2 separate regions of the Homo sapiens genome follow, and region 1 is linked to region 2. The links come from fine-mapping of genetic effects on gene expression. A gene starts in region 2. The other region holds a variant in brackets. All regions are shown on one strand. Distances are from middle to middle.

Region 1 (3,002 bases), 23 kb before region 2:
AAGGGGGCTCAGTGGACCCTCCATTTTACAGATAGGGAGACTGAGGCGCAGAGAGTAGACGCATCCTGCCAGAGAGTGCAGACCTGGCCTCTGTTCTGTCTCAATTACAAAGCCCCTCCTCTTTCCCTGCTGCCAGCCATACCTTTAATGGTCTCTCTCTCCATCCCCAGTCCCCTCAGTCCCCAAATCCAACTGGTCAGGTTCTGGAGGGAAACCTAGTAAGTTCTGTCTTAGCGCCCTGGCTTGTAAGTCACACTGACAAGTATAAAGCCACATGTCTATTTTGGAGGCTTACCCCCAACCCCCACCCCGCCAACAGCAGCCTCCCCGCAGCTCTTGGCCCTGGGTGGGCCCAGCTCTCCCACAGCCACCTTCCTTCCCACCAAGAAAACATGAGCAGAGCAAATTGCCTAATGAGACCCATATTTTGCTGAGTTGCTAATCAAAGAACAAACCCAACCTACCATTAATTTGGTCTTGGGAAAGAAACTTGGCCTGCAGCAGAGAAAGGAAAACAGTCAGGGGAGGGCTCCACCTGAGGTTCACGCCCCCAGCCCTGGCCAGGCCGACACAGACCCTCACACTCACCATTCTGGGGCCTCGGCTGCTACCCGTGGGCTTGCTGCTCCCAGAACCGCGTTCAGTTCCCTTTCCTCCAGCCTCAAGTCTAAAGTCTGCCAAGCTGGGTGGAGGCCCGGGTAATAAATGCTCGGCTGCCATGGAGACTGGGCCCGACGCCACCAGGGTCAGATTCCAGCTTCCTGAGCACAGCTCATGACCCGCCACCTGGGCAGGTTGGATTTTTGAGGAAATGGGGCTGCAGAAGGCTCTCCCTGGGCTCAGAGTCTCTGCCTCCAGAAGCCGAAGCAAAGGGACAAATGCCAGTGTTTCTTCCCGGGAGCCCTGGACTCCAGGAAGGGGTCTTCTCTCTCTCTCCTGGGACTCGGCGGGGATGCCATCAGGCCCCTACTAGAGTTGGACACTTTACACCCCGGGTCGTATTGAAGGCTCCTCACACACCATCTTGTAGGAGGAAGGGAACCCTTCCAAGACGGCCTAACTCAGAGATGGGCACCGGGGCTCGCAGGCTTGGGGCTCGGTATTGCAGGGATACAAGCTTCGGTGCTCTCAGGCTGGGATTCAGTCCTCCCCGTCTGCTGACTTGCTGAGTGACTGGCGAATCATTCTACCTCAGTCTGTGCCTCAGTTTCCTCACCAGCTGAATTACAGGGCAGCTGGCAAAATCAAGTGGCCAGCGCACAGCCGGTTCCCATCCTGTGCCAGTTCAGTTCCCACCTTCTGAGGACTTTAAGGGTGGTGGAGGGGCCTGAGCCGGGTCTCCAGCCCCACCACAGGCTCCTCGGGGGCTTGGAGTGAGGCCTCTTAGTGCCGGTTACCCTGGCCAGGAAGGCTCCCCTTTTCTTCCTTCCCTTCCTCTCTCCACCCTCAGCCCCA[C/A]CCCTTCCGCAGAAGCTGCTGACGCTCCCAAGTCTTCAGGAGTTCGTGCTGCTCCCCTCCCCCACATAGGAGGAAATGGGGGCAGGGTGTGAGGCCTCCCCAGCTTCTTCCCCTTGAGATCCCATTTCCCTGTTTGGGGCGTGAGGCTTTTGTCCACAGCTGAGTCTATGAGGCTCTACAAGTAGGTGTGGCTGCACAGGTGTGCCCTACACAAAGGCCCCCAGCCCAGGTGCGAGTGGTTGCTGGCCAGGGGCTGCACTGCCAATAGGAAGGGGGGCATTGTGCCACTTTGCACACAGGCGCATAGACGGGAGGCGCTGCCTGTGCCCCACTCTCCCCTCCCCGCTCCTTTCCTGACCGCCTCTGTGTGGAAAGTGTGCTTTTCTCCCAAATCACATCCCCAGAATCGCTTTACACCTGTTTCTAGACCCAGAGAATTTTAGCTGGGGACTCCGACTCCTCCCTGTCAGAGTTTGAGGCTCCCCCTCCCAAACCCCATGGCAGGGATAAGAGGAGGGAAGGCTGCCTCTGTGCAGAGGATGGAGAGAAGGACATCAAGGAAAGTCACTTGGGACTCTGGAAGCCTGAAGGCGGCCAGGCCAACATGCTCCCTCTGAATCCCCTTGCCTGTGGGAAGGGGCTCCAGAAGAGATGAGGTGCCTCCTTGGAGTTAGGCCAGTGTGTGCTGGGGTGCCCCGGCCAACTCCCTCCTTATGTGTGTAGGTGTCTCCGGGGGTGACGCACAGATGGAAAACACCAGCGTGGGGCAATGGCTGCGTGAGGGTTCACGATACAGCAACTCACCATGCTGTAGGGCGCACCGTGTGTGCTACACCTCAGCACGAAAGGGAGAAAAGACAAAAAACACCTCTAACACCACTTGGGGCTGTGACTGTATTTACTTCATTCTTGAATCCCGCGTCCCCGTGGCTGGGGGCTGACACATCCCTGGGCACCACTGTGACTTCCTGTGGGTCCCTTCCCTTCTGTCCCTGACTCTGTAGACCCCCCACAGGAAGGGTCCTAGGTAGGGGGAGGTTCCTCCTCCCTTGAAACCCTGGGCCACTCTGTCAAGGCAAAGCCTCTGGGCCCAGCACCTTGTAAAGGCTTTGATGAGAGGAGCTCTGGCTTTTGCTCAGGGCCTTTGGCACCCCACCCTCCAGCCCCCAGGAATGCAGGCGCTCAAAGCCTGTGGCTAGGCTGCCCGAAGCGCGTGCCGCAGTTCTTCTGGAGTGGGAGCAGGGGGACAGAGCTTTGGGTAGAGGAGGGTCACCTGCAAAGCTGGAATGCCAGGGGAGTGGGCGGTGCCTCCAGCTCCTGGGGGCCAGGGTGTCTCCATACCTCATGGGCCTGAGCCTGGGCAGGGGTCTGGAGTGCACATAGCCCCCAGGCAGGGAGAGGGCAGTGACAGGACAGAGCCACTCATCTGTCCCAAAGCTGCACCCAAGGGGTGTCAGCAACCCCAACCTACTGACCTACTTTGGGACCACAGGCCCATCTAGTGCAAATGAGGCCCAGAAAGGAGAAATGCTTTGCTCAACAGCCAC
Region 2 (2,500 bases):
TCGTACCAAAAACTTCCTAACAAGGACTTTGCGCATGCTAGTGCTCAGAAACTTCTCACGACTCCCCAGTGCCTATGGGATAAAGACTGTGTCCTTAACCTGTCACCTAGGACAGGAACTAGGGTGAGACAAGCAAGGCCTCCAAGGCCCAACATTTGAGGCGGCACTCACGGTCACGGCAGTGCGCCTACCCCTAAGTTTTGCAATCTAGGTCCTCAACTCGAGTCCTAGACTTGCTGCAATTAAAGGCCCTTCACAATCAGTCTGCATCCTCCTGTCACTTTCTTTTACAGCCGGAAAGCTCCAGCACCACTAAACTCCTTGCCCTTCCCCACTGTTTCCCTGGATGGAACAGCCTGTCTTCCCTGGGTCCCCTACCAAGTCCTCTGAGACTCAGCTCAAGTGCCACTTCCTCCATGAAGCCCTCCAAGATGACCGCTCACTCCCACTTGGGCTCTGTCTCTCCTGATCCCTACAGGACCGTAAGCCTCTCCCACCTTCACCCTGCCTACCCCCTTACTGCCTGGCACAGCGCTGGGCATACCACAGGCGCTTAAAGAATGCCTGCTGAATGCAGTGAATGTTTCTGGTCAGTAAAACGGGACGAAGGTAGAATGGAGCTCTGCTCGCCCAACGAGATAAACCAAAAACTGAGAAGGGCTCCTCATTCATTCTCTGGACGGCAGCTTCCGCCCTTCCCCGCTGTCTCTTCCATTACATTCGCACATTCTTGGGTGCCCCAGGTCAAGCAGACAGCCTCCTGATAAATGACAGAATCAAGTCCTACTCAGGGCTGGAGGGACCCCGAGAACGCGGAGGTGGCGCCCGGAACTTGCGGATAAGTTGGGGGTCCGAGTGACGAGGTGTGTGTACCCACCGCCCTGGGGAGCTCTCCCAGCGCAGCGGCTGTCCCGGCGCCAGCCCGGGTCGCTGGAACGCGGGAAGGGAGGAAAACCCCAAACTTCGGGCGGGCGCTCCTCCCACCCGAGCAACGGCGAAGCGGGGAGGCCGAGCCCCGCTGGGCCCCAGGCTCCCCAGACAGAGAAGGAAACGCGGGGGCACCGCCGCCACGGTAGCGCGCCTCCAAGCCCCCCGCGCTCCGCTCCGCCCCGGCCAGCGCCGCACACGAGGTTCCCGCCCGGCAGCCCTAGGAGCGTCACGTGGCGGGTCCCGAGGCCCCAGCGCACAGGCGCCTAGCCCGCCCTCTCACCCCGGCGCGCGCCCACCTGGCCTGCAGGAAGGAGGCGCCCAGCTGCGCGCCTGGGCCGCCCGTCGCTCCCAGGTGCTGCCGCCTCCGCGTCGCCTCCATGGCTGCCCCGCAGGCCCCTCGGCCCTGCCTTTCCGAGGAAGAGACCGGTTCAGCTCGGCTGCCCCGGCGGAGGCCGCCGCAAATTCCCAGCGCGGGGCGGTTCGGGGCGGGCCGGCGAGAGCGCGCGGCCCTCGGGAGGAACAGGCGGGGCTGCGGACCCGGGGCGGGGCGGAGCGGAGCGGAGCGGAGCGGAGGGAGGCGGGGCGGAGGGAGACGGGGCGGGCTCCGCTAGGGGAGGGCCGGGCGCTGCGAGTGTGGCGTCCTCGCGGGGCGGGGGCTGCTGGCCTGTCCGGGCTGCGCGCGTGACCACCAGCGGGCTGGGATGTGTTAGGGTCCCTTGCCTGCCTGGGTACGGGAATCTCTGTCTAGGGTGACTGAGGCCTGGGTGTTGGGCTGGGGCGGGGTAGCGACCTGGAGATAGACTAAGCTGATTTAAATGCTCCCCGGGGCAGAGGGTTCTGTGGGATTTCCCTTGTTCTTACGGGTGGAGGAGAGGAGGCAGGACTGGAGACCTGCACGTGTAGCACCCGCGTGGTGCAGCACGTGGGTTGCAGATGTTCTAGTGAGGGGCTGGCGGTGACAGTGGGAAGGAGCGAGTTGGTGACATCTAGAGTCGTGTGAGAGGTATGGTGACTGGGACTCTGGATGTGGGGGGTGAGGGGAGAAGAGTTCAGGCAGTGGCCGGATTCTGCCCCTGGGTGGATAGTGGAGGCACCCCCCGGGAAGTGGGCTAGAGCAGATTTCGTGTAAATAAAGATTCATCTTTGAACGCATTAAGCTTGAGGTGGGTCAGGAAGGCTGTTGGACCGGTGGTCTGAAGCTGAGGCGAGACCTGGGAACCCAGTGGACAGGCTCGTGAGTCACCGGAGCATACAAGACAGACAGAACCTAAGGGGACAGCATCCTCAAGTGAAAAACAGAACCAAAGGTCAAACCTGAGAACAGCCTGCAGGGCAGATTGCCAGGACTTCATTAGTGGTACCACTTTGAACTAGCTGTGATGCGGGCAAATGGCTCAACCCCTCACAGCTTCAGTTTACTCATCTGTAACAAGAAGATGCCTATTGCATCTACTACATTGGAGTTGTGATGACTATATGAAACTCTTAGCAGAGAGCCCAGCACTGGTGGACTAAGTTATTTACAATAGCCCGTCTCGAGACCTGAGGTTTCCCTCCACAGAAAGGTTAC

What was found. PIP is the estimated chance that this variant, and not a neighbour inherited with it, causes the effect.
Region 1: its variant is fine-mapped to the expression of CLN6 in whole blood (TOPMed, PIP above 0.99).

What each region holds. Positions count from the first base shown.
Region 1 is chr15:68,204,657-68,207,658 of GRCh38, forward strand. CALML4 (calmodulin like 4) reads right to left here and starts at 676. Exons shown (of 5, transcript NM_033429.3): 1 at 589-676; 2 at 465-495. The coding sequence starts at 591. It overlaps CLN6 (CLN6 transmembrane ER protein), which reads right to left. Exons shown (of 7, transcript NM_017882.3): 7 at 2,336-3,002. RefSeq lists an enhancer at 1,375-1,669. The variant C/A (reference allele first, on the strand shown) is at 1,456.
Region 2 is chr15:68,228,276-68,230,775 of GRCh38, forward strand. It overlaps CLN6 (CLN6 transmembrane ER protein), which reads right to left and starts at 1,453. Exons shown (of 7, transcript NM_017882.3): 1 at 1,227-1,453. The coding sequence starts at 1,309. RefSeq lists enhancers at 738-807, 838-917, 2,148-2,197 and silencers at 958-1,547, 1,317-1,496.